7 linked regions of the Homo sapiens genome follow. The protein of the gene in region 7 purifies or fractionates together with the protein of the main gene of each other region. This does not show direct contact. Each region holds a gene or a part of one and is shown on either strand. Other genes may lie near its edges. The genes, in order: CPSF7, THOC2, ACOT9, SRSF3, TXNL1, IDH2 and KCMF1.

Evidence for each region.
Region 1: the proteins of KCMF1 (region 7) and CPSF7 purify together in Homo sapiens (affinity purification with mass spectrometry; one large-scale study listed by BioGRID and IntAct). This does not show direct contact.
Region 2: the proteins of KCMF1 (region 7) and THOC2 purify together in Homo sapiens (co-immunoprecipitation; one large-scale study listed by IntAct). This does not show direct contact.
Region 3: the proteins of KCMF1 (region 7) and ACOT9 purify together in Homo sapiens (affinity purification with mass spectrometry; 3 studies listed by BioGRID and IntAct, with this or other methods). This does not show direct contact.
Region 4: the proteins of KCMF1 (region 7) and SRSF3 purify together in Homo sapiens (affinity purification with mass spectrometry, with the first as the bait; one large-scale study listed by BioGRID). This does not show direct contact.
Region 5: the proteins of KCMF1 (region 7) and TXNL1 fractionate together in Homo sapiens (co-fractionation; one large-scale study listed by BioGRID). This does not show direct contact.
Region 6: the proteins of KCMF1 (region 7) and IDH2 purify together in Homo sapiens (affinity purification with mass spectrometry; 3 studies listed by BioGRID and IntAct, with this or other methods). This does not show direct contact.

Annotation. Positions count from the first base shown.
Region 1 is NC_000011.10:61,419,976-61,423,475, forward strand, and holds part of CPSF7 (cleavage and polyadenylation specificity factor subunit 7), read right to left. Parts: intron 1,664-3,500; exon of another isoform or gene 1,634-1,663; coding exon 1,415-1,633; intron 1,283-1,414; exon of another isoform or gene 1,217-1,282; intron 1,156-1,216; exon of another isoform or gene 1,082-1,155; coding exon of another isoform or gene 1,079-1,081; intron 599-1,078; coding exon 495-598; intron 120-494; coding exon 1-119.
Region 2 is NC_000023.11:123,628,553-123,632,052, reverse strand, and holds part of THOC2 (THO complex subunit 2), read left to right. Parts: intron 1-200; coding exon 201-365; intron 366-3,500. UniProt on the Homo sapiens protein: Component of the THO subcomplex of the TREX complex which is thought to couple mRNA transcription, processing and nuclear export, and which specifically associates with spliced mRNA and not with unspliced pre-mRNA.
Region 3 is NC_000023.11:23,705,277-23,708,776, reverse strand, and holds part of ACOT9 (acyl-coenzyme A thioesterase 9, mitochondrial isoform a precursor), read left to right. Parts: intron 1-832; coding exon 833-900; intron 901-2,037; coding exon 2,038-2,149; intron 2,150-2,918; coding exon 2,919-3,009; intron 3,010-3,182; coding exon 3,183-3,268; intron 3,269-3,500. UniProt on the Homo sapiens protein: Mitochondrial acyl-CoA thioesterase. Catalyzes the hydrolysis of acyl-CoAs into free fatty acids and coenzyme A (CoA), regulating their respective intracellular levels. Regulates both mitochondrial lipid and amino acid metabolism.
Region 4 is NC_000006.12:36,600,862-36,604,361, forward strand, and holds part of SRSF3 (serine/arginine-rich splicing factor 3), read left to right. Parts: intron 1-290; coding exon 291-329; intron 330-846; coding exon 847-933; intron 934-1,100; coding exon 1,101-1,128; 3' UTR 1,129-3,500. UniProt on the Homo sapiens protein: Splicing factor, which binds the consensus motif 5'-C[ACU][AU]C[ACU][AC]C-3' within pre-mRNA and promotes specific exons inclusion during alternative splicing.
Region 5 is NC_000018.10:56,611,093-56,614,592, reverse strand, and holds part of TXNL1 (thioredoxin-like protein 1), read left to right. Parts: coding exon 1-169; intron 170-3,495; coding exon 3,496-3,500. UniProt on the Homo sapiens protein: Active thioredoxin with a redox potential of about -250 mV.
Region 6 is NC_000015.10:90,099,669-90,103,960, reverse strand, and holds the start of IDH2 (isocitrate dehydrogenase [NADP], mitochondrial isoform 1 precursor), read left to right. Parts: upstream 1-1,492; 5' UTR 1,493-1,570; coding exon 1,571-1,685; exon of another isoform or gene 1,686-1,829; intron 1,830-3,339; exon of another isoform or gene 3,340-3,385; intron 3,386-4,292. UniProt on the Homo sapiens protein: Plays a role in intermediary metabolism and energy production. It may tightly associate or interact with the pyruvate dehydrogenase complex.
Region 7 is NC_000002.12:85,054,661-85,058,160, forward strand, and holds part of KCMF1 (E3 ubiquitin-protein ligase KCMF1), read left to right. Parts: 3' UTR 1-3,500. UniProt on the Homo sapiens protein: E3 ubiquitin-protein ligase which accepts ubiquitin from an E2 ubiquitin-conjugating enzyme and then transfers it to targeted substrates, promoting their degradation by the proteasome.

The sequences.
Region 1 (3,500 bases), on a different chromosome or scaffold from region 7:
ACAGGTTCTGCCGGGTGGCCGGCCTCACGTCCACTTTTTCTCCATTAAGAACTTTCCCTGGTAGGAGTTCCAACAATTTGTGGACAGAGTTTTCAGAGGCTACCACCACCTCAGCATACCTTAGGAAAGAAAAATTAAAAATGAATGAAATCTGTAGACAGCCAAGAGAAGAAAAAAGAAATTCTCTTCCACTTTTAGTAAAAATTGATAAAGCAAAGGACATCTTGCTAAACTAAACACACATACAGCACTAACAACAAAGAGACAGCCTAAATCTTTATTTTTTTGGAATTAAAAATCAGTATTCTTCGCCCCTTAACAGATGGATATTCTACTACACTGCAGCTAGGTCCCTTTCTAAGGCAGTTTGCCAAAACCAAGGCAGTAAGCTGGGCCAGGGGTGGGAGTGATTAAAATCCAGGGCCAAAATATAGTACAGATCTTTTATCCCAATGGTTACAAATTAAAAGGGGCTTCTCAAATCCAGACCTCACCCTTTGGACTGGCCATTTGCTCGATTCTCTGCAAATTTCAACTCCACCACATCATAGACTCCTATAGAGCGAATAACCTGGATCAGCTGCTGGTCTGTGGTCCACTGGGGCCGGCAAGATGGAAAAGGAAGAGATGTCAAGAGCTACACCCCCGCCCGCCAATGTCCCAAACCCAGGATTCTAGTCACAACTAAGTCCCCCCAGAGGAAACTCAAAAGCCTGGCAATATTTCAATTAGTGCAGACTTTTCTTATTGTCCTCACCCATACAGAATTCCAAACCCACTCACCCCCAATCTCCATCTTTAGAGATTACGAAGATTAAAACTTATTGTAACTTTGACTGCCGTTTGGGCTGGCTGGTCATCAGTTCAAACATTGACAGCTAGCAATTTTTTAATTATAGATCTGTCAGGCTAGAGTTGACCATTGCCAGAACTTCCCCCACAGTAAATATACTTCCTAATTTGGAAAAACCACCCCCACCACCAGCCCCAAAACATCACAAAATAACTTGCAGAACAACAGTCACCACCTACCCCAAGTATACTAGAGTTATCAAGGTCTTTAATCCCCATCACCCACCATTATCACAGGACCATCTAATGACCACCAAGAGTTCAAGGTGTTCACTCTGAAATCTCGTCCCTCAGATGACCCTGCTAGACATAAAGCCCCAGGGTCAGGGGCAGTAACAAGATGGCAGAAAAAGCAACTACCCACTTAATCATTGCTTTCTTCGGCACCAGTACGTCCTCAGGATAGTTCTCTTTCAGAGATCAATCCAACCTGATCCCAGGAAAAAGAAATCCAACCCCATCAGAGCACAAAACAGTGCAACAGTAGTTTCTGAAAATGCCATCACCTCCCAGTGCTCTCCCTCCAGCCCACCCCTAAGCATTTTTGGTTACCCACACTCACCCAGGAGAAGCTGCCCACATAAACGGCAGCTCGTCTATTACGCAGGCCACTGTAGGTATACAGAATTGCAGGGGTCTTGTTGTTGGGCTTGGGAGATGGCTCCTGGCGAACAGGAGGAGGTGGTTCAGTGCTGCTGCTTCTGTCATCTGAGGGCTGTGAGGTGGCTGTCAGCACATCATCATACAGGTCAATCTGATCTGTATTGTTGAACTCTGGGTCCTAAGAGATGAGGGGTTGGCAAAGGTAGGTCTGCAAACTTCATTTTGTTCATTCTATTTCACTCTAGTTTATTAGAATCCAGTTAAATACTTGGTAAAACATGTACAAAACTTCCTTGTCCTACCCCAGGAAACAAAGTAAGAAAAACCTCCTTTTGAAACTGTATCACTTAATTATGCTTATGTACATTTTTTTCCCCTCAAGATTCTGTTAATAGTCTGTAAAGTTTCTGGCTTTAGCCAACGGCAAGAATCAAAAAGCACTGGGTGATTAAGCAAGCAAAGAAAGAATGCATAATGAGATGCATGGGCTGCTGTTATCAATAAGGTCAGCTTCTAAAGACCACATCTAAGATAAGCTAATGAAAACTTATTTTCAGTATCTTATGCTATTTCCAAAATCAAGTGTTACATAAAATTCACTTGTCTATTTAATAATAAATTTATTTAGAAACAGAATGCAGAGGAAAAGCATGAAAGTGGGTACAAAAATGCAGAAAAGATTGGGAGTTACTGATTTAAATCCCTTGATTGGTATAAATGATTTAGGAAAGCTCTAAACTCATTGTACACAATCCCATCTTTCCATCGGAGAAAATAAAAAATAAATAAAAGGGAAGGGAATAACAACAGGGGTTTTCCCCTACTAAGTTCTATTTCTTAAATGACATACAGGCCCAATGCATTACCATGACATGTATCTAGGAGACTTTTTTTTTTTTTTGAGACAGGGTCTCACTTTGTCACCCAGGCTGGAGGGCAGTGGTGCAATTACAACTCACTGCAGCTTCAACCTCCTGGGCTCATGTGATCCTCCCACTTCAGTCTCCCAAGTAACTGGGGACTACAGACATGCGCAACCATGCCCAGCTAATTTTCAAATTTTTTTTGTAGAGACAGGGTTTCACCATGTTGCCCAGGCTAGTCTGGAACTCCTGGACTCAAGTGATCCACTGGCCTCGGCCTCCCAAAGTGCCGGGATTACAGGGGTGACTACCATGCCCAGCCAATATTCAATGATATACAAAAAACAGTTAAAGTTCTCTAAAATATAAGGGCCAGAAAACAGGACAAGAACATAAACTGTATCACACAGTAAGCATTTACAATATGAATATGTATTATGGAAAATGTGCAAAATACATATTCTGCCTATGTGATATCTTACTTACTATATACCAAAACCCCTAAAACTACAACTACTACTACTACGATACAGGACCTTAATGTTTAGGATTTTACAGGCTGGGTGCAGTGGCTCACGCCTTGTATCCCAGCACTTTAGGACGCAGAGATAGGCAAACTGCTTGAGCCCAAGAGTTTCAGACCAGCCTGGGCAACATGGTGAAACCCTATCTCTACAATAAATACAAAAATTAGTTGGGCATGGTGGCACACATCTATAGTCCCAGCTACTCGAGAGGCAGAAGGATCACTCGAGCCCGGGAGGTTGAGGTTGCAGTGAGCCAGCCTGGGCAACAGAGTGAGACCCCATATCAAAAAAAAAAAAAAAAAAAAAAAAAGGGTTCAGGATTCTACAATGTAATTACCTCAGAGAAATCTTTTTTTTTTTTTTTTTTTTTGAGACACAGTCTTGCTCCATTGCCCAGGCTGGAGTGCAGTGGCGCCATCTCAGCTCACTGCAACCTCTGCCTCTTGGGTTCAAGTGATTCTCCTGCCTCAGCCTCCTGAGTAGCTGGGATTACAGGCACACACCACCATGCCCAGCTAATTTTTGTATTTTTAGTAGAGATGGGGTTTCACCATGTTGGTCAGGCTGGTCTCAAACCCTTCATCTCGTGATCTGCCCACCTCGGCCTCCCAAAGTGCTAGGATTACAGGCGTGAGCCACCGTGCCTAGCCTCAGA
Region 2 (3,500 bases), on a different chromosome or scaffold from region 7:
CTAGTAAAACCTTGGATTAGTCAACCTGTCAGGGCCTTGGCATCTTTTTTTGTAATATGGTCATGTGGTTATACTTGTAGATAGTCTCTAAAGTCCTTTTAAGTTATAAAATTTGGATTCTTAATTGTTAAAATATTCCTAAAATGACTTCTTAATCACTTTGGAAAATATGTTGATTTTGTCTTATTTTTTAAATTTAGTGTCATGATACCCTGGTGCAGTTTGGTGGGTTTTTAGCATCTAATCTGAGCACAGAAGATTATATAAAGCGAGTGCCTTCAATTGATGTACTCTGTAATGAATTTCATACACCCCATGATGCAGCATTTTTCCTGTCTAGGCCAATGTATGCCCATCATATTTCGGTAAGTACAAGTGTCTTTGCTGCCGCTCAAGAACGATCCAAATTATTTCTTAACGGTTTTATCTGTAAGTACATATCACTACAGATTTTGGGGGAAGGTCTTGGCCCTAAACTAGGATCCCTTCTTTGTTTCCAATAGGGGTACGAAGCTGTGTGGTAGAGGTATACAAAAAAGGTGATGAGAAATTTGGAGTCTAATTGATCATTTAATCAAACATCTGCTGTTAGTGTTTACATATCAACTGCTACAGTCTCCCACTTCTTTCCTAACTAACTGCTACTTGATTTAATTATCACTTTGTTAGCACTATGCAGAAATTCCTGTGTTATGTATACACTCTGAAGGGAAAAAGACAATAAGGGAGTGGTGTTAGGCTGCTTCTTCCCCTTTAGATCCTCTCAATCCAGAGAATTGTTTGCCGTCTTTGTGTAACGTCTTACTGTTGTCACACCCCATGGTAGATCAGTCTCAGCTGTGCAAGAGGGTACCTGATTTCTTGACAGACAGAGGTGGGAGAATTTCTTCATCTTAGGAATTCTGACCTGCCCTGTGCTAAGTGAACACACTAATCAGCAATATGGAATCCTAGCAAACAGGAACACCTGGTTGTCTGTGGTTGGCTGAACTTTTCCAGCTCAGAAAATGGAGCAGGTCATTCAAGCTACTTTTTCTCTCTTACTTGTGTAAAATATTACCTTTGTCTTTTAAGAGATACAAAAACCTAAACAAAGAAATGGCATTTCCCTCTCAGGCTTGGAAGAAAACAGAAAACTAAATGAAAGTGGCTGTATAGCCAAGTCAGATATAAGTCTTTTATCTGTAGGCAGCATGCCACTCTCTGGAAAAGGTGTTTCCCAGCAATCTTGTGGTTGTGCTGGATGGGCATCCAAGCTGTCCTGGGGATCCTTGCTTTTGCTTCTTGAGTGAAAGCCTCTGTTGAAGAGCCTTCGTTGAGAGAGTGAAAATGTATATTAGGTGATTGCTATGTCCCCTCTATAAACTATCAGCAGGCTCTCTTGAGGATAATTCAGCCAAACGCTGCCCAGATTTTTTTTTTTTTTTTTTTTTTTTTTTTGAGATGGAGTCTCGCTCTGTCTTCCAGGCTGGAGTGCAGTGGCGCAATCTCAGCTCACTGCAACTTCCACCTCCCGGGTTCAAGCGATACTCCTATCCCAGGCTCCCAAGTAGCTGGGATTACAGGTGCCCGCCACCACACCCAGCTAATTTTTGTATTTTTAGAAGAGATGAGATTTCACCATGTTGGCCAGGCTGGTCTCAAACTCCTGACCTCAGGTGATCCGCCTGCCTTGGCCTCCCAAAGTGCTGGCATTATAGGCATGAGCCACTGTGCCTGGCCTGCTCAGATTCTTGAGACGAGATTTTTGAACAATAGTGAGAAGTACAGCAATAATTGTGGATATCAGTTCTATTCCATAAGTCTAGTTCCCCAGGCAATTTGAAATGTAGAACTGTTATGTCTCTTCATTTGACTGAAGGTGTGAACTTGAAGTGGGAGTTAAACTGACTTTAGACAAGGACATATTCATCTTGGGTAAATACGAAGTATAGCCTTCTTTTCTGACCAAGCCTATTTTTCTAACTAGATAGTGACTATGGGGTTCCTAGCAATAGAAATCACAGATTCAGACCCAGAGGACTGGGGAGATTGGAGCTATCATGTAACCCTCTCATACCTATAAACTAATTTTTAGTTTTAATTGTTGAGGTTGTGGTCCACCTTGAGACACAGGTCTGAAAGATAGGCTTTTAACCTAGTTCATATTCTAGATCTTGCCCAGAACAGGTAATTAGGCTGTCTTTTATGCAGATAATGTCAGCCCTATTTTATCCCGTTTTGTTAGAACCTTAGCAGAAGTCATTCTGCTCATCTAGATTCATATTAGTTACCTTCAATAAGACCTGTCCTCTAAATTAAAAAACACTCTCTGTTTTCCCAACTGCTATTCCCTCAGGTTTCTGATGCAATTGGGACTCCTTTTTCGTAACTAATGTTCTTTGTAGCTTTGTCACTTACGTGGTCTCAGTGGTTGTCAGCATGCTCTCTAAAATGGGGATAACAGAGCATAAATCTTCCCACTTCTAGAACAATTGTAAAATTCTAGAACAATTGTAAAATTGAGCACTCAGGAAGGAAGGCAGGTAACTGAGCTGTAAGGAGCTGAGACTCTTTTGCCTATCACAGTGTAGAACTGGAAGCAGAACCTTTGATCATCTCGTTTTGGGTTACGTGTTTAGCACAAATAGAATGATTTAAGTGATTTTCTAACGTAAGGAAGTAACTAGTTTTAGGACTTCCTTTAGGTTCGTATGAAGGGTGATACCTAACTTAAACAAAATTTTCTGGATGAGAGCTCTTTCATCCTAAAGAGACTGAAGGATGTGAAACAATAGCAGCAACTCTGTGTTATCTTCATATATATGTGTGTGTGTGTGTGTGTGTGTGTGTGTGTGTGTGTGTGTTCATGTATAATATATATGTTCATATATATGTTATCTTCATATATATAGAATATATAGAAAAAATATATATATTTTTGTGTGTGTATATATATGTATAATATATTTGGCATACACATCTCTGCAGCCCCTCCCATTGTACTAACAATTTTTTTTCCTCATACAATTAAGAATATGGCATTCCTCTGTTTTTTCCCCCAAATTAGGATAAACCAGTCAAACGAAAGAAGCTGCAGCATCAGTTCTCACATGCTTTAAACTTCAATATACCACAGCTTTTCACAGAAAAATTTATTTGGCTTAGCAGTAGAGTAACCAGTTGGTCCTGGTTTGCCTGGGATGTTCCCAGTTTTAGCACTGAAGTCTTAAATCCTCAGAAATCCCTGAATCCCCAGCAAACCCTGACAATTGGTCACCCTACTTAGCAGTCTTAAAACAAATTTCTCATAACTTTTCTTAGTGTTGATCCAGCTTTTTTTTTTTTTTTAATTTTTATTTTTTGAGACAGTCTCCTTCTGTCATCCAGTCTGGAGTGAAGGGGCATGATCTCAGCTCACTGCAACTTCTGCCTCTGGGGTTCAAGTGATCCTCTCACCTCAGCCTCCCAAGTAGCTGGGATTACAGGCCTGCGCCACCACGCCTGGCTAATTTTTTGTA
Region 3 (3,500 bases), on a different chromosome or scaffold from region 7:
AGAAATTCAACAGTGATACAGTTATTTAATATGTGATCCGTATTCAGATTTCACCAGTTGTCCCTAAAATGTCCTTTATAGCTATCTTCCTGATTCAGGACCCAATCCATCAAGGATTGTATATTGCATTTGGTTATCCTGTTTCTTTAGAATAGTCTCTCTGCCATTTGCTGTCTTTCAAAAATTGATATTTTTAAAGAGTTCAAGCCAGTTTTCTTTTTCTTTTTTTTTTTTTTTTCTTTTTTTGAGACAGAGTTTCGCTCTTGTTGCCCAGGCTGGAGTGCACTGGCACGATCTCGGCTCACCGCAACCTCCACCTCCTGGGTTCAAGCAATTCTCCTGCCTCAGCCTCCCGAGTAGCTGGGATTACAGGCATGTGCCACCACGCCCGGCTAATTTTGTATTTTTAGTAGAAACGAGGTTTCTCCTTGTTGGTCAGGCTGGTCTCAAACTCCCAACTTCAGGTGATCCCCACCCGGCTTGGCCTCTCAAAGTGCTGGGATTACAGGCGTGAGCCACCACGCCCGGCCTAAAGCCAGTTTTCTTGTAGAGTGTTCTACAACCTATATTTGACTGTTTCCTCATGATTAGAATCAGGTTAAACATTTAGCAGATGCCAGTATCCTTTTTATAATGTTAAGTTTCTAGTGTGCAATTAAGGCTGTAACTGTAAGGCTTCCCTAATTGTTCCAGCGTTCACATGTAAGGCAAGCAGTAAGCACTACCCAAAATGAAAAGCAGATTCTTTAAAAGTAGTAGGTGATTGTTCATCTTCAAGTTTTATTAGATAATGGCATATCTTAAATTATATTCTTTTTTTTCTTCTTTTTAGGCCGGCATTTGTAAATCCACTCATCCCTGAAAGCCCAGAGGAAGAGGAGCTCTTTAGACAAGGGGAATGTACATTAATTTGTTTATAATAAAATAAATTTGAAAAGCACATTAATTACGCTGCAGAAGAGATTATTTAAGATTTTATATGGGCTCTTCATACCAGTCAAATGTCTTTTTTTTGTTTGTTTTTTTGTTTGTTTTTTTTGAAATGGAGTCTCTCTGTCTCTTGCCAGGCTGGAGTGCAGTGGTGCCATCTCGGCTCACTGCAACCTCTGCCTCCTGGGTTCAAGTGATTCTTCTGCCCCAGCCTCCTGAGTAGCTGGGACTACAGGTGCGCGCCACCACACCCAGCTAATTTTTGTACTTTTAGTAGAGATGGGGTTTCACCATTTTGGCCAGGATGGTCTCGATCTCCTGAACTCGTGATCCGCCTGCCTTGGCCTCCCAAAGTGCTGGGATTACAGGCGTGAGCCATTGTGCCTGGCCCAAATGTCTTATTCATACCAATAATTTATTGAAATTAAAAATATGCTATTCTTTTTTCTTTGGAGTCCATACTTTGAATGATTTTATTGATCAGACAATATTTATTAAGTGAAGTAATTTGTTATCTCCGTTTTTTTTTTTTAGACAGTTCTTGCTCTGTTGCCCAGGCTGGAGTTGGGCTTGGGTCCAGGAGTTTGAGGCTACAATGAACAATATTGTAGTCTCGATCTCCTGGGCCCAAGCTATCCACCCACCTCAGCCTCCTGAGTAGCTAGGACTATAGGCACGTGCCACCATGCCTGGCTAATTAAAATTTTTCTTTGTAGAGACAGGGGTCTCACTATGTTGCCCAGGCTGGTCTTGAACTCCTGGACTCAAGCAATCCTCCTGCCTCCGCCTCCCAAAGTGTTGGGATTACAGGCATGAGCCACTGCACCTGGCCTGTTTTCTCCGTTTTAATGAAGTGAGAAATGCATCTCAATGGGATAACTGCAGGTCAGGGCTCTGGATCAGGATGATATCAAGTGATCTCACACTGAACCAATATAATTTCCATGTGGAACCAAAGACTCACTGGGAGTTTTATGTGGCCTCTGCAGTTTTCTCTTGGATACGTGTATAATTTTCAGTGAGATTTTGAAAGGCATCCCAGGTCAGAATACCGTGTGCTGTAGTGCGACCGTCCTGATCATTGCTCCTTATTCTCCCTTGTTCCAGTGAACAAGGGGAGAAGAATTGCCTTCAGCTCCACGTCGTTACTGAAAATGGCCCCCAGCGCTGAGGAGAGGACCACCATACATGAGATGTTTCTCAGCACACTGGATCCAAAGTAAGGATGGTGAGATTCCACGTTGGGAAAACATTTAAACCTTGGCCTTTTTTTTTTTTTTTTTTTTTTGAGACGGAGTTTCGCTCTTGTTACCCAGGCTGGAGTGCAATGGCACGATCTTGGCTCACTGCAACCTCTGCCTCCCGGGTTCAAGTGATTCTCCTGCCTCAGCCTCCGAGTAGCTGGGATTATAGGCATGCACCTCCACGCCTGGTTAATTTTGTATTTTTAGTAGAGACGGGGTTTCTCCATGTTGGTCAGGCTTGTCTTGAACTCCTGACCTCAGGTGATCTGCCTGTCTCCACCTCCCAAAGTGCTGGGATTACAGGCGTGAGCCACCACACCCGACCTTTTTTGTTTTTGAGATGGAGTCTTACCCTGTTGCCCAGGCTGGAATGCAGTGGCGTGATCTTGGCTCACTACAACCTCTGCCTCCCGGGTTCAAGCAATTCTCCTGTCTCAGCCTCCCAAGTAGCTGGGATTACAGGCGCCCGCCACCACGCCTGCTAATTATTTTGTATTTTTAGTAGAGACGGGGTTTCACCACGTTGGCCAGGCTGGTCTCAAGCTCCTGACCTCATGTGATCTGCCTGCCTCGGCCTCCCAAAGTGTTGGGATTACAGGCGTGAGCCACCGCGCCTGGCCTAAACCTTGGCCTTCTCCAGAGCCACAGTTGTCTGAGTGTATTGGGAGTGACTTGCAAATGTTTTTACTTTTCAACAAGAGAACCATGGCATTAACAGGGTTTAATAAATATTCATTTGTACAGGACTATAAGTTTTCGGAGTCGAGTTTTACCCTCTAATGCAGTGTGGATGGAGAATTCAAAACTGAAGAGTTTGGAAATTTGCCACCCTCAGGTATTATAATTTAGTGAGAAATCCGAATAGGATAGCTTCCGTTCATGATATTTGTCCAAGATTTGACACACCTTTAAACTGGCCTTTGTCCTGTGGCATTGTTAATTCCTCTGTTCTGTATACAAAGGTGGCCATAAGTTTTGTATTTATTGATATTTATTTATGTCCTGTAGGAGCGGAACATTTTCAATCGGATCTTTGGTGGTTTCCTTATGAGGAAGGCATATGAACTTGCGTGGGCTACTGCTTGTAGCTTTGGGTGAGTTACATGTAAGGCAGCCTTAACTTCTGAGAAGCAATTTATATCACCCCACTGAAATGAAACATTTCGGACCAGTCTGGGTGTGTGTGGGAATATGTTATGTTTTTGAATGAATACCACACTGATACCAGCTGAATTTGATCTTCATTTTAGAAGGTTGTTTCTCTGACTTTGTAAGTTCATACATTAAAAAAACTACTGAGAAAATACAGTGATGATATGTAGAAAG
Region 4 (3,500 bases), on a different chromosome or scaffold from region 7:
TTGACATGAAGTTTTGCATTGGACAGATCTGCTGTGAAGCATTCTTTGTTAAAGTGAATCCATGGTTGGAATACCTGCTTTTCACTTGAGCTTTTTGTTTCTTAATCCTTCTGTGCCTTTTTTTTCTTTTCTTTTTTTTCTTTTTTTTTTTTTTTTTTTTTTTTTGGACGATGGGTGCCAGTTCTTCGGCACATTCACTGGGCCCAACAGTGAGATTGAAAAGTTGGGAAATGCCTCACGCCATAAATACTAATTGATGATGAGCCTAATTTTCCTGTTTCTGCTTTTAGATCTCCAAGAAGGAGAAGCTTCTCTCGCAGCCGGAGCAGGTAAATGACTACCTTTTTTGGCTACGTTCTTAGAAATGGCAGTGTTTCTGCTATTCCTAAACTTTTCCAGGTGGCTTAGTTAATGGGAATAAACCTTGGCTTTAATAGTGAATCAAGTTGTAAGGATGAGTCAGCTTTCTTTGAGTTTTCAAAGGCTTTTTAGAAAGTATTTAATTTTTTAAAAAAGGATCTGTCACCCAGGCTGGAGTGCAGTGGTGTGATTATAGCTCACTGTAGCCTTTAACTCCTGGCCTTGGAGTGATCCTCCCTCTTCAGCCTCCTGAGTAGCTTGGACTACAGGCAAGTACTGCCATACCTGGCTAATTTATTTTTTGTGGAGATGGGATCTCACTTTGTTGTCCAATCTGTTCTCAAACTCTTGGCTTCAAGTGAGCCTCCTGCCTCTGCCTCCCAAAATATTGGAATTATTGGCATGAGTCACCATGCCAGATCAAGAAAATATTTATGTATAATTTTATCATACCTCATTGGTCCTAATGTTTTTTTGCTTGTTTAGGTCCCTTTCTAGAGATAGGAGAAGAGAGAGATCGCTGTCTCGGGAGAGAAATCACAAGCCGTCCCGATCCTTCTCTAGGTCTCGTAGGTAAGATCTTTGATAACTTGTATTTAAGACTTTGCATACATAGTATGCTAAGGCCTGTCTTCTAAGCCATAAATTTTTTACCTTAAAGTTCTATTTCGATATGTCACTAAAGTGTCACCAAGTTACAGATGTAATGTTTTGTTTTCTTTTTTTTTTTTTTTTTTTAGTCGATCTAGGTCAAATGAAAGGAAATAGAAGACAGTTTGCAAGAGAAGTGGTGTACAGGAAATTACTTCATTTGACAGGAGTATGTACAGAAAATTCAAGTTTTGTTTGAGACTTCATAAGCTTGGTGCATTTTTAAGATGTTTTAGCTGTTCAAATCTGTTTGTCTCTTGAAACAGTGACACAAAGGTGTAATTCTCTATGGTTTGAAATGGATCATACGAGGCATGTAATACCAAGAATTGTTACTTTACAATGTTCCCTTAAGCAAAATTGAATTTGCTTTGAACTTTTAGTTATGCACAGACTGATAATAAACCTCTAAACCTGCCCAGCGGAAGTGTGTTTTTTTTTAAATTTAAATACAGAAACAACTGGCAAAAATTGAACTAAGATTTACTTTTTTTTCCATAGCTGGGATATAGGCTGCAGCTATAGTTGAACAAGCAGTCTTTAAAAACTGCTGTGAAACACAGGCCATCAGGGAAAACGAAATGCTGCACTATTAAATTAGAGGTTTTTGAAAAATCCAACTCTCATCCTGGGCAGAGGTTGCCTAGTTGGTATAGAATGTTAAGTTTCAAGAAAGTTTACCTTTGCTTTAGGTCATAAGTTCCTTATTTGATTGCTGTATATGGATACATGGCTGTTCGTGACATTCTTTATGTGCAAATTTGTGATTTCAAAAATGTCCTGCCAGTTTAAGGGTACATTGTAGAGCCGAACTTTGAGTTACTGTGCAAGATTTTTTTTTCATGCTGTCATTTGTAATATGTTTTGTGAGAATCCTTGGGATTAAAGTTTTGGTTACAAATTGTTCTTTAACTTGAAAGCCTGTTTTTCCTTGCAAACTCAAATCTGTGAGCTTGGTACCAAGTCCAGGTATAACATTCCTATTGGAAGCCATACTTATATTTTCTTGTAAAGTGCTTTTGAATTAATAAAATATTAGCATAATTGTGTATAGTCAGTTGAACCCACTGTTACCATTGTTCTTATCCCATGGGAAGCAGTTGGTTACACGATTCTTATTTTATAAGAAACAGCTGAGAGGCACTATGGATTAGTCTTCTGAAGTGAAGGAAATATAGATGTCACCTAAGTGATAGTTAACCCATTTTTTTTTTTTTTAGGCATAGAAGCCAGTTCAGGGTCCATAATATTTAGTGACCAACATTTTAAAGTATAGCAGCAACCTGGTTCTTAAACACAAAGTAAGTTGCCCATTAACAAATGGCTTTTATCTTTAGCATGAAAACTTTCCACAGGTCTAAAAATTGCTTCCATTTTATAATTTGAGGTGTTGCATGGGAATTCTAAGCTGATCCATCATGATGTAAAAGTTCACAATATGGTTCAAATGTAACAGTGCAGAATTGAATATGGAGGCATGCATAACCTTCCTCTTAGAAAATGGCAGGTGTTGTAATTTCAAATTTTTGTGCAATTAGATTAAATCATAATGCAACAGTCTTGTGGCTTAGTTTCCTTAAATATGCTCTTAAGATAGTTTTGGATTATGCGGTATTGACTGTCTTAAATATGAAAGATAAGTCATTGCATTAAGAGTTCAAGCTAAATGGATACATTAAGATACAGTTCCTAAACAAATTATTTATTTCCACCTTTTACACAAATCTTGGGAGAATTGGTGTCAGGAAGGTTCAGCCTTAAAGTTAAGCATGTTCAAGAAAGACACTTTTCAGACAGCCTGTTTATTTACTGAGAGCTCTGGCATTGGGCATTTTGTCTTTAGTATTCTCACATAGCCTACAACCTGTTCCTGTTAGGAACAAGCCAAGATAGCTAAGAAGTTACGGAAGCCATGCAATATGTCAATTACATTGCTTTTTATAAATGGACAACTTATGTGGGCATTTTTGGGCAGTATATGACTTCCTTGCAGGCTCTTAAGTTGGAAGGGTTTCTGTAAAAAGGACAGTTACGGGTATAATATGGCTAAGAGAAATAATACAGAACCTGAAATAAAAGTAACTTCACCAGGGAGTTATCCTGACTTAGGTGACATACAGTCCCAGTTGGCAGTTACTTTAACCAGGAGCCCTAGCATAACCTCAAGACTCTTAGAAACTTTAGAACATGGAAATTGTTAAAAGCTTTGAATTGCACATTTAGATTGTGGCTATTAGGAATTTTTAAAGTTGTAATTCCTAAAATAACAGGTCACACTAACCGGTCTTGTCCATATTCAGGGTTGAGTGTAAAAATGAAAGGAATCACAAAACTGAACTTAGACCTGTGGTTTAAGGATCAAGGTGTTCACTAGAAGTCACTGTTACTAATACTTGATGACAATGTAAAGAAACATTAAGGATTATATTTGATTGTTTTCAAAGACACTGGCTGGATGTGGTGGCTCACACTTGTAATTCCTAGCACTT
Region 5 (3,500 bases), on a different chromosome or scaffold from region 7:
GGGCCCTAAATATGTAAAAATTTTTATCAACCTACCCCGATCTATGGATTTTGAAGAGGCAGAAAGAAGTGAACCAACTCAAGCTCTGGAACTGACAGAGGATGATATTAAAGAAGATGGCATTGTTCCACTTCGTTATGTTAAGTTTCAGAATGTTAACAGTGTAACTGTAAGTAGTATTTCGTTCATATGTATTTAATAGGTTTGTGAGTAACAATACTATTTTCAGTATCCTAGGTAAGTCTAAGTGATTCTTTAAAGTGGTATTTATTCACTCAGTTTGAAATGAGTAAAATGTTTAATGGGATAAATTTTCTTCTTTTTAATTTATGTACCCTAAAGAGGAAGGACAGATTGATTTTTGAATATTTGTGGGGTTTTGTCAGTTATTTTATATGTATATGGTAAGTTTTGCTGGAAGTTTATTCTACAACTTTATACTAAAACTGAAGATATTTGTGCTTTATTCTTTATACCTGGTATAGTAGTGATGTGTTTGTAAAATCTTATTTACTTTTCTTGAATATGGAGTTTTTAAGTGTGGTGGTCATGATCTTAGTAAAAATGACTTTTTATTTATTTATTTTTTTTTGAGATGGAGTCTCGCTGTGTTGCCCGGGCTGACTTGAACTCTTGGGCTCAAATAATCTTCCCGCCTCAGCCTCCTGAGAAGCTGGGATTACAGGCATGCACCACTGCACCTGGCTTAAAAATGACTTTTAAAAAGATAATACTACATTTTATAAGATGACCTAAGGTATATCTGAATTTTTTCTTCCTTTGAGGCAGGTTCTTGCTTTGTTGTCCAGGCTGGAGTACAGTGGCACGACCTTGGTTCAGTATAGCCCTGATCTACTGGGCTCAGGTGATTCTCCCTCAGCCTCCAGAGCAGTTGCAACCGCAGGCACGTGCCACCTCACCCAGCTAATTTTTTATTTTTGTAGAGGTGAAGTCTCTCCCTGTGTGGCCCAGGCTGGTCTCAAACTCCTGGGCTCAAGCAGTCCTCCCACCTCAGCCTCCCAAAGTGCTGGGTTTATAGGCTTCAGCCACTACACCCAGCCTTTCTGAAGATTGACTAGTGCTTGAGGTGATTTTAAGTGATGTATTTTAGATGTCATTATTAAAGTGCCACTCTCAAGAATCAGCTAATTTTTAGCAGTTATTAATTGCTTTTAAAAAATTTAGCATTGAAACCCAGCTCACACTTCTCACCTACAGTCATTTAGAGGAATGGGTAGGACAGTTAGAAAAGAATAGCAGAATACTTAGAAAAAGAAAGTAGGAACCAGCACAGAGCCACTGAGAATGTCATGCCAAACTGGTACAGCTTGTTTGTTGTGATGGAATAATTCTATTTTTGTAAATTAGAAGAATGCTAAAGTATGTGTTCATTTAAGAATGTTTTTGAGAGTTTCACAGAATATACATAGTAGTAGTATGAAGAATTATAATTGGCTGGGTGTTGTGGCTCACTCCTGTAATCCCAGCATTTTGGGAGGCCAAGATGGGCAGATTGCTCGAGCCCATGATTTTGAGACCAGCCTGGGCAACATGGTGAAACCCCATCTCTACAAAAAAATACAAGAACTAGCTGGGCATGGTGATGCGCCTGTAGTCCCAGCTACTCTGGAGGGACCACTTGAGCCTGGGAGATTGAGGCTTCAGTGAGCTGCAGTTGTGTCATTACACTCCAGTCTGGGTGACAAAAAAAAAAAAATTATAATCAAGTTGAGTTTTAAGTATTAGAAATATCCTACCCAAATGAAATCAAAGAAAATTGTTATATTAAACTTAGTATACTCATTATCAAATATTTTCTTGAAATAACATATGGCTGCCTATGAAAACAATAAAAACTGACGAATGAGTGGCATCTCAGAATGAAAGAAGTATGTTGTTTAAATCACGAGAGGCAGTTTTTAACTGGTCATGGGAGTACGCTGGTAGTCCCAGCTACTTGGGAGGCTTAGGCAGGGGCATCACTTGCACTAAAGAGTTCAGGACCAGCCTAGGTAACATAATGAGACCTTGTCTCAAAAAAGAGATAGGTGCAATATTTTAAAGTAGACAGCACCTAGAATATTGTGTTTTTAGAAATGGAGCAAATTTCAAAAATCCAATGTATGACAAAGGATCAATGAGTAAAACTTTTAGTTTTTATCGTGCTGAGGGGAGTTATTAAATATAGAGTCAAGCTTAAAAAAAAAATGAGGCACATAGTATTGTTTTAGGAGCTGATTCCCAATACTATTTTTTCTTTTAATATTCTAGGAAATAGAATGGATACAGGAATATCAGAAAGAATATCACTTTAGAGATTTTCCTCAGTGAAAAACTATGATTTTAATAAAATTTCCAATGATAGTCTGTCCCATTGTAATTGTAACTCTTAATACCCTTTCAACATTCTCTATAAAGAATTTAATTGCTGGGCGCGGTGGCTCACACCTGTAATCCCAGCACTTTGGGAGGCTGAGGCAGGAGGATTGCCTGAGCTCAGAAGTTCGAGACCACCCTGGGCAACACAGTGAAACCCTGTCTCTACTAAATTTAAAAAAAAAAAAAAAAAAAAAAAGATTAGCCGGGCGTGGCAGCATGTGCCTGTAGTCCCCCCTCCTCAGGAGGCTGAGGCAGGAGACTTGCTTGAACCTGAGAGGTGGAGGTTGCAGTGAGCTGAGATGGCACCACTGCACCCCAGCCTGGGCAACAGAGCAAGACTCCATCTCTTAAAAAAAAAAAAAAAAAAATTAGCCGGGTGTGCTGGTGGGCTACTCAGGAGGCTGAGGCTGGAGAATCGTTTGAACCTGGGAGGCGGAGGTTGCAGTGAGTCGAGATCGTGCCATTGCACTCCAGCCTGGGCAACAGAGTGAGACTCCATGTCAAAAAATACATATAGAGAGAGAATTTAATTGTGACTCTGCCATACTATCACACCAAGTTACCATGAACTTATATATATGGGTCTCTTGCCATGACATCTCTGGAGAAAGTGAGAATAGCAGGGCAAACAGCCCTATAATTAGTAGTCCTATCCTATAGGAGTACTAGTCTTAATGTTATATAATTTTGATTAATTTTTTTTTTTTTTTTGAGCCAGAGTTTTGCTCTTGTTGCCCGGGCTGGAGTGCAGTGGCACGATCTCAGCTCACTGCAACCTCCACCTCCTGGATTCAAGCGATTCTCCTGCCCCAGCCTCCCGAGTAGCTAGGATTACAGGTGCCAGTCACCACACCTGGTTAATTTTTTTGTGTTTTTAGTAGAGATGGGGTTTTGCCACGGTGGCCAGGCTGGTCTCGAACTCCTGACCTCAGGTGATCTGCCCACCTCAGCCTCCCAAAGTGCTGGGATTACAGACGTGAGCCACTGCACCCAGCCTAGATTAATTTTTACAAAGAATGGAGAATATTTATGTTATTAATTTAAGGAAATTGATTAAACTTAAAGCATGTTTGTGAAGAAGGATTGTAATTATAAATGCAAACTTTTTTTTGGTAGATATT
Region 6 (4,292 bases), on a different chromosome or scaffold from region 7:
GAAGAGAGAAACTTTGTTTGTGGCAGAATCAATTACAACTGTCTTTTGTGGCCAGGTGCAGTGGCTCACACCTGTAATCCCAGTGCTTTGCGAGGCCGAGGCGGGAGGATCATTTAAGCTTAGGAGCTGGAGACCAGCCTGGGCAACATAGTGAGATCCCCCCATCTCTATTTTTAATTAAAACAAACAAACAAACCCATCTTTTATATGCAAACAGGCAAAAATGGAACTGTTTCTACTGTGGCTGTTTGACTACTCTAGGGTCTCAGAAAACAACACCCCAAAATGCAGGCCTCAGGAGCAGCTCTCTCTGACCCTCTCCCTCCCTCCTGTCTTTGGCCCCTCACTCTCCTCCGAGGCCAGCCATAGAAACTGGAATCCTTCTTCCTCAAGGCAGGTCATAGAAACCAGAGCCCTTCTCCCCCAAAGCCAGACATCGAACCCAAAAATATTACTCTTTCTCCCACACATTTCTGGGTAAAAACTGGCCATAAATTATCTGACCTACCTTGTTTGCTTGCAGGTCCTAAGACCCCTCCATCCCAGAGAGAGTCCTGCCCCGTACTCAGAAGGAAGGAATGCTGCAGAGAAAGGTCAAGAAGAATCTACACGGACAGGACTTGCTGGGTTTCCCCACTCAGGTTATTGGCCTTCTGGTCCAATCATATTTCTTTTTTCGTGGTTTTTTTTTTTTTTTTTTGAGACGGAGTCTCACTCTGTTGCCCAGGCTGGAGTGCAGTGGCATGATCTCAGCTCACTGCAATCTCTGCCTCTCAGGTTCAAGTGATTCTCCCGCCTCAGCCTCCTGAGTAGCTGGGATTACAGGCGCGCGCCACCATGCCCGATCAATTTTTGTATTTTTAGTAGAGACAGGGGTTTCATTATGTTAGCCAGCCTGGTCTCGAACTCCTGACTTCAAGTGATCCGCCTGCCTCGACCTCCCAAAAGTTCTAGGATTACAGACGTGAGCCACCGCGCCCGGCCCAAAGTGAGATTTCAACTCTCTCTACACCAGCTGGACCTGACAGCGGACTCGCGGAGGCGCAGACGCCGCCGGCGGTCTTAGCTCAAGAATGAAGCAGCCGCACTGGGCTAATGCGCCTTTGGGTTCAGCCCGGCAGGCGAGGGAAGCAAGAGTTCGCTCAGATTGGCTTTTGGGTTTAAGCTAAAGCGTCAGAAACTGACATCCAGGTTTACATGGGGCATCCTGGAGAGGGTCAGCCTCGCAAGCGGCTCTGCTAATCCCCCAGCCCTGATCCCGCTCGCGGGTCCCGGTGGGTCTCACGCCTGTAGCTCCTGCGGAGCTGGGCTTTCAGCGGCGCCCAGAGAAGCACCAGCCGGGCCTGGCCGCCGGGTCCCGGCTCCCGCGGGACGCTGGAGGCGTCGGCGGCCCTGGCCCCGCCTCCTCCCCGGCAAGGCCCAATGGGGCGGCAGGCCCGGCAGCCCCGCCCCGGTGGTGCCCGCGCGGCCAGCGCCCGCCAGGCCCAGCGTTAGCCCGCGGCCAGGCAGCCGGGAGGAGCGGCGCGCGCTCGGACCTCTCCCGCCCTGCTCGTTCGCTCTCCAGCTTGGGATGGCCGGCTACCTGCGGGTCGTGCGCTCGCTCTGCAGAGCCTCAGGCTCGCGGCCGGCCTGGGCGCCGGCGGCCCTGACAGCCCCCACCTCGCAAGAGCAGCCGCGGCGCCACTGTGAGTGCCGCGCGGAGGGTCCAGGCAGGCGCGCGCCCCCAGCTGCGACGTGGCGGCTTCCCAGGCTGGGGCCGGGAAGCACGTCCCGCCAGCCCGCAGCCCGGGGACGGCGGGGTCAGGCGCACAAAGGGCCGCGGGGCAGCTTCGCTCCGCGCTCCCCCGCCCGGCGCTTCCCGGCCGTGCCAGGCGCTGGGGTGGGGACTTGAGGGACGGTGGCAACTGGTGGCCCGGGCGACGGCCAGCTCTGCGCGGGCGGGGGCTCGGGGCTGCCGCGCGCCCCTAGGTATTTCGGGAGGGGGTCCTGAGAGTGTCCCGGACCCGAAGGGTGGCCTGCCCGCCCTGCGCCCCTGGAACGAGACGAGCACCCGTGGGGGGCTGGAGCACCCCGCGCGCTCCCCTGGCGAGAGGGAGGGTCGTGGCTCGGCCCCTGCTCAGACAAAGGCTGGGAGGCGGGAGACATGCACTTCCCCTTCCTTTTCAGCCAGGCGCGCGCTGATACCAGGCCCACGTCAGCTATTTTTGGAGCCTTTTACACGACAGCTGGAGGAGCGTCCTTTTTAATTTTCCCCTTTTGTTTGGCCGCCCCCACCCCCACCCCTTCGCCTTCATCGCTGCACTTGAGGCTCCATCCTGGGGCCTCTCCTTGACTTGACCTGCCTTGGCAGGCACATGCCCTCCCTGCCTGGCTCACTCGCCGCAGAGACCTGGCAGCCCGCGCAAAATGTCACTTTGCGGAATCGTTCCCACGGCTTCTGGGTACCCTTAGTTCCCTGCTTAGGAGGGAAGACAGTAGTCGGGTCGTAATAAGCAAGACTTAGCCCGAGCCTCCGTTGCCAACGCAGGCTGCCTTGCTTGGCGTGTGGGCATCGGCCTGCCCCCTCACCCTGGCTACCCAACACAGCTACAAAAGGCAGGGAACAATGTAGGTCCCTTGGCCCTGCCTAATGCCTGTTGCCATGGAAACCCCTATCCTAATCTGGCCAGGAGCCCCTTGCAGTGAGCCAGGAGAGTGAGGAAGAGGGGATGGGGCCCGCTGGCCCTGACCTGGCCAGAGGAGGTAATGGTTAACCGGATTGTGGGAGCAGCTGACTAGAGCCGGGGGGGTAGGGAGGCTTGGGCCCCAGTCCTACCTTCCCTGCCAAGGAGAAAGGGGCATGTCTGCTTTTGTACCTCTGGGAATCTACCTCAGGGATCTGCCCAACAACTCCCAGGTTCCAAGTGCCCCAGGACCCAAAGATTCCCATATAGCACACCACCTTCAGCAAAAATATGGTGGAAGTTAGCCACATTCTTTAATTCTCCCTTTTTTTCTGCCTTGATGGTAAAAAAAAAAAAAAGAAACAAACAACCCGAAAAACACACACAAACAGGAACACAAAGCGCCTTTTAAGGGTCCTGAATTTGGATACAGAAAAAGCAGTCAGTTGCAGGCCCTTCTAGAAGTCCCCATGTGGGTTGGTTATGAATGGGGAAATTGCTTGGTGTTGGAGTTGGACATCAGACTCTACAGTTGCGACTCTGCCAGCTTGTTACCTGGCAACGCAGCTGGAGACAGAATACTTGGCATTCCCCTTGATGACAAGGAAAGAATATTTTGGGGCTAAAAGAGCCCCGTGTCTTTGCTGCCTGGTAATTCCTGCACGCATCTTTTCCTATTTTGCAACGCCATAGGCTTCCAGCGACTGCTGGTGATGTTTCTGGTAAGTTAGAGCTTGGGGCAGTGCGGACCAGTTCTGTGAACGGCTCAGTGGCAGAATTACTTATCTAGCCTTCCTTCACTCCTAACCCAGAAACTTCTTAATTCTTGCCCCTTAAGTGTGCAGATCTTTCTGCCACGTCAGATAAGGCCCTAGCTGCCCTGCCAGAGCTGATTGGGGTGGTTGTGTTTAGGCCTAGTAGGTACTGAGGAAAAGCCTCTTTGGAATGGCTGAGGCCTGCTCCCACATCTTCTGTGTGAAGTTGAGGGCCCTTGGGCTGGTTCCATTCAGGGTATGAGGTGCTGGAAACTGCTCTCAGATTACTGGAAGCCAGGGTCTGTGGCCTTCCCTGGGGTTTATACTCTGTAAACCCATGTTAAAAATACCAGCAGATTGCAAATATTAGTACACTGTAGGTTGTAAGCTTCTTCAGGGCATGGGGCCTATTGCTGGAGAGAGATGCCACCCGTGTACATCTGGTGCAGGCTGCTGGTAAGAACTCACTGGCCCCTGTGTGGCAATGCATACCAGATGGGTGAGAGGGGAGGAAACACATTCAGTGAAACAGAAGGTGAGGGCAGGGCAGCCCTGACCACAGATGGAGTTGACTTCAACTTGACCTTTATTTATGTCTTTGACAAAAGTAGTATACTCCTACTTTGTGCCAGACACCATGCCGGGTGCTGGGGATAGAGCTGGGAATAAAACCAGCAGAGACTCTTTCAAAACCCTTAGGAGCTCAAATTCTGATGTGGGAGGGGGCAGACAGTAAGCAAGATAGATGTTGACTAGTATGATATATGGGTACAAGAGCTAAGGAAGGCCAGGCACTGTGGCTTACACCTGTAATCCCAGAATTTTGGGGGGCTGAGGTGGGAGGATTGCTTGAGGCTGGGAGCTCCAGACCAGC
Region 7 (3,500 bases):
CAGGGACAGCGGGTTTGGGGGTTGGGAGGGCAGTTTTTGGAATGTAAATTTAGGACTTTTAAAAAGGTGCGCACAGCTTCTGATAAATTTATAACTAGACTTAACCTAATCATGTCTCGTTCCAGTTCTCTTTTCTCTGAGCCCTTTTCAAAGTCTCCTCTCTTTCTCCTGTCATCCTTTTCCTTTCCTGTCCGTGTATCTCCGTTTCTTCAACATGACAAGCATACAGACTTGAACACCCCTCCGGTGTTCTTCCGAGAACTGTGAAGTCCATGTTCATCCAAATGTAACCAAAAAAGAAGTCACCCTACATGTCTGAAAAACTGTTGCTTCTCCTCTGAAACTTCAAACTCCAACGATTTCCAAATACAATAGCTTTGTTTTCTTTAGTTCTGTAATGGATAATGTTTAAAGGAAAACTTTACACCAGGCTTCTGGTTACACTAGAAGTCAAGCCCATTAGGGATTTTCATTTTTTTTCATTTGGTTGTTGAGAAGTTTCAAAAATCAGTTTTCAAGCTGTGGTCTTTCAAACACATCTGCACATAAGTCACACATTTCAATAAAGCATTTTCAAGACTGTTGACCACTTGAATTTCTTTGGTGTTAGTGGATTAACCTAACCATTACTCTGAGATTTTATATCTCTAATCCAGTATTTTTTTTCTTTTTATGCTAAACATGGGAGATCCTGGTTTTGTGTGAATGCATTATTTTGGATGTGAGAAATAAATGCCAATTATATGTACTTTCCCTTTTCTGCACAAATTCTGGGAAAATGTAAAAGCCTTCATTTTTTAACATGGTTTTAGGGAACAACTGTAAGTCCATTCAGAGCAGTTTAATTTAGATGATCACTTTTAACACTGCAGAAGACCTAAGGAGTCATAAGATTCCATCTCATGTAGAATACTGTATATTAATTATTTTTTACCAGATATTTTACAAATACCTCACCTCATCCTGTATGTAATCAATAATGTATTATTTTAGGGTAGAACGACACAGAATATCAATATAAAAATATATTCAAGCCCTTGAAATTCTTGTGTCCTTTTTCTTTAGTTTCTGAATGAAAATCTTATTACTGGATGTACTATTGAATAAAAATTAATTGCAAAGACTTTGATGGAGACAAAATCAAAATATACCACTGTTTATTTTGGCAGCACCTTCAAATTTCTAAGGACCAGATCCTGAATTTTGAGAATTTTTTGTTTCGTTGAGTTTTGAGTGTCTAGGATATAAGTTTATAAATGTTCTACAGTGCTTGTCTTTACTTCCTGTTTAGAAATCATTTAAATCTTTCCCCTCGAGGTGCTCTGGAAGAAGTTTAATTTCAGCTCTGAACAAGTAGAAATAACTGTGCTTCCTTGTATGGCTGCAATCATAAGACAGAATTTCTGTGGTTGGCTACCGTGAAATCTTTGTATTTATATTGCATTGTTTTGTTAAAAAAAAAAAAATCCACAGAAGTAGAACCTAGGTTTGCTACTAACAAAGTAGTGGATTCTTATAATTAGGCTCAGGTAAAGTAAGAGAAAACTTCTCTCCCTGTGGCCCCCAGAGAAATGAAGTAGGATAGCAGATTACACTATTAGAAATAATAGACGTAACAAAAAAAATCCAGCCCATTATCCCCACCCCCCATTTTCCCTCTCAATATTAGAAATTTCAATAATATGCTGACAGATTTTCAAAGGTCACCAAGGCTTTTGTGTTTTTTTCCGGTCTGTGGGCCACAGTTAAAAGAACGGGTAACAGGTTCAGAGTTCTCTTGATACGTCCAAGCCTTAGTTTCCAGGAAAAAAGCTAGGCTCCTCACTGCAAATATTAACGCTTTATATATTTACTCCATGGATGTTGGGGTAAGCACATATATCAATAGTTCATAGCTCTAGTTAAGGACAAAGTGGGTTGGGGGGTAGAAGGAGAATACTAGAGAGGTTACGGTAGCAGGTGGCTGCAGAAAAGAATCTTTTGAATGGGATTCCTGTAACAGTGTTCAGTACCAATATTAAGTCTACTGTAAGTGGGGTCTGATATGGCTTACTGATACAGGCATGTGTAAAAAACTAAGTGTGATGGAGGAATGGGTGCTAAAAGCTCTTAACAGTTTTGTAGAGAAGCCCTGCAGCCGTGTTTACTATATATGACATGCCTGTTTCTTAGTTTGCATGCACAGTTTAAGGGGCACATGCAATATTGGTTTCATGTGCAGTAAAAATTAAAACACGGCTGAGCGTGGTGGCTCACGCCTGTAATCCCAGCACTTTGCGAGGCCGAGGCGGGTGGATCACGAGGTCGAGTTTGAGACCATTTTGGCCAGCATAGTGAAACCCCATCTCTACTAAAAAATACAAAAAGTTAGCTGGGCATGGTGGCAGGCACCTGTAATCCCAGCTACTCGGGAGGCTGAGGCAGGAGAATCGCTTGAACCTGGGAGGCAGAGGTTGCAGTGAGCTGAGATCACGCCGCCATTGCACTCCAGCCCGGGCGACGGTGCAAGACTCTGTCTCAAAAAAAAAAAAAATTAAAACACTAGGTACGAAATTATCCCAGAATTATACGCGAAAGTTGGTGTTCATGCTGGAAAACAGTTACGGTTATCTGTGCTCTTTCTAAAGCTCAACTAGACACTAAAACAGTTCTCTCCTTGAGACCGGAAGTGGGATGGGGGTGGGCAGGTGGAAGGGAAGAGGCTGGGGAGGAGCCTCTCATCTCATCTCATTTCAGCCTCAACAGTAATTGAAACCCTATGCCTGGCCTGGAGTGGGTAGAGGTTAGGGTTAGAGTGCAGGATGGAGCAGCAGTCTGCAGACTTTCAGGTTGTGACGATGTCATGAAATTCTGTGCTATTAAACATGGCTATGTCTGAGTCAGTCATTACGGTATTCCAAAGCCAAATTCAAGTGACTGTTTTTCTGAATAGTATAAAAATCTAATTCCCTGTGCTTATCGGCTTCAACTGTGCTTACACAACGTTTGTTTCTAATTCGTACTCTTGCCTCTTGGTTTCTGTAGTTTTTCAACCCATTTCTGTCAGTGTTCTATAAATGCATACATTCGTTATTTAAGGAACCCTGCAGCAGACCTCGAATAAAATGTGACTTGATGTTTGTTGCCACTTCCTCAACTTGGTTAGCAAATTCAAGTTTTGAAAGACGATTCGTCTCAGAGAAGTTGATCCTGAACCTCCACGTCACATTTTAGTCGGTTGCTATTAGGTGGGTAATGCCTAATAACATGGGTTCCTCAAATCACAAAGGAGAATGCTCTCAAGTCCTCATGTTAACTTTAGTAAGTCAGTTAACTTTACAGCAACTAAAGAGATCAATTAAAAAGAACCCTTAAGTCTGACTGTCCCAGGTAACTTTACTTGCTGTACAGATAGTGCACAGATATGGATGAGGGCTGCACATGGCTGATTTGAAAACCCATGTGGGGCCGGGTGTGGTGGCTCACGCCTGTAATCCCAGCACTTTGGGAGGCCAAGGCGG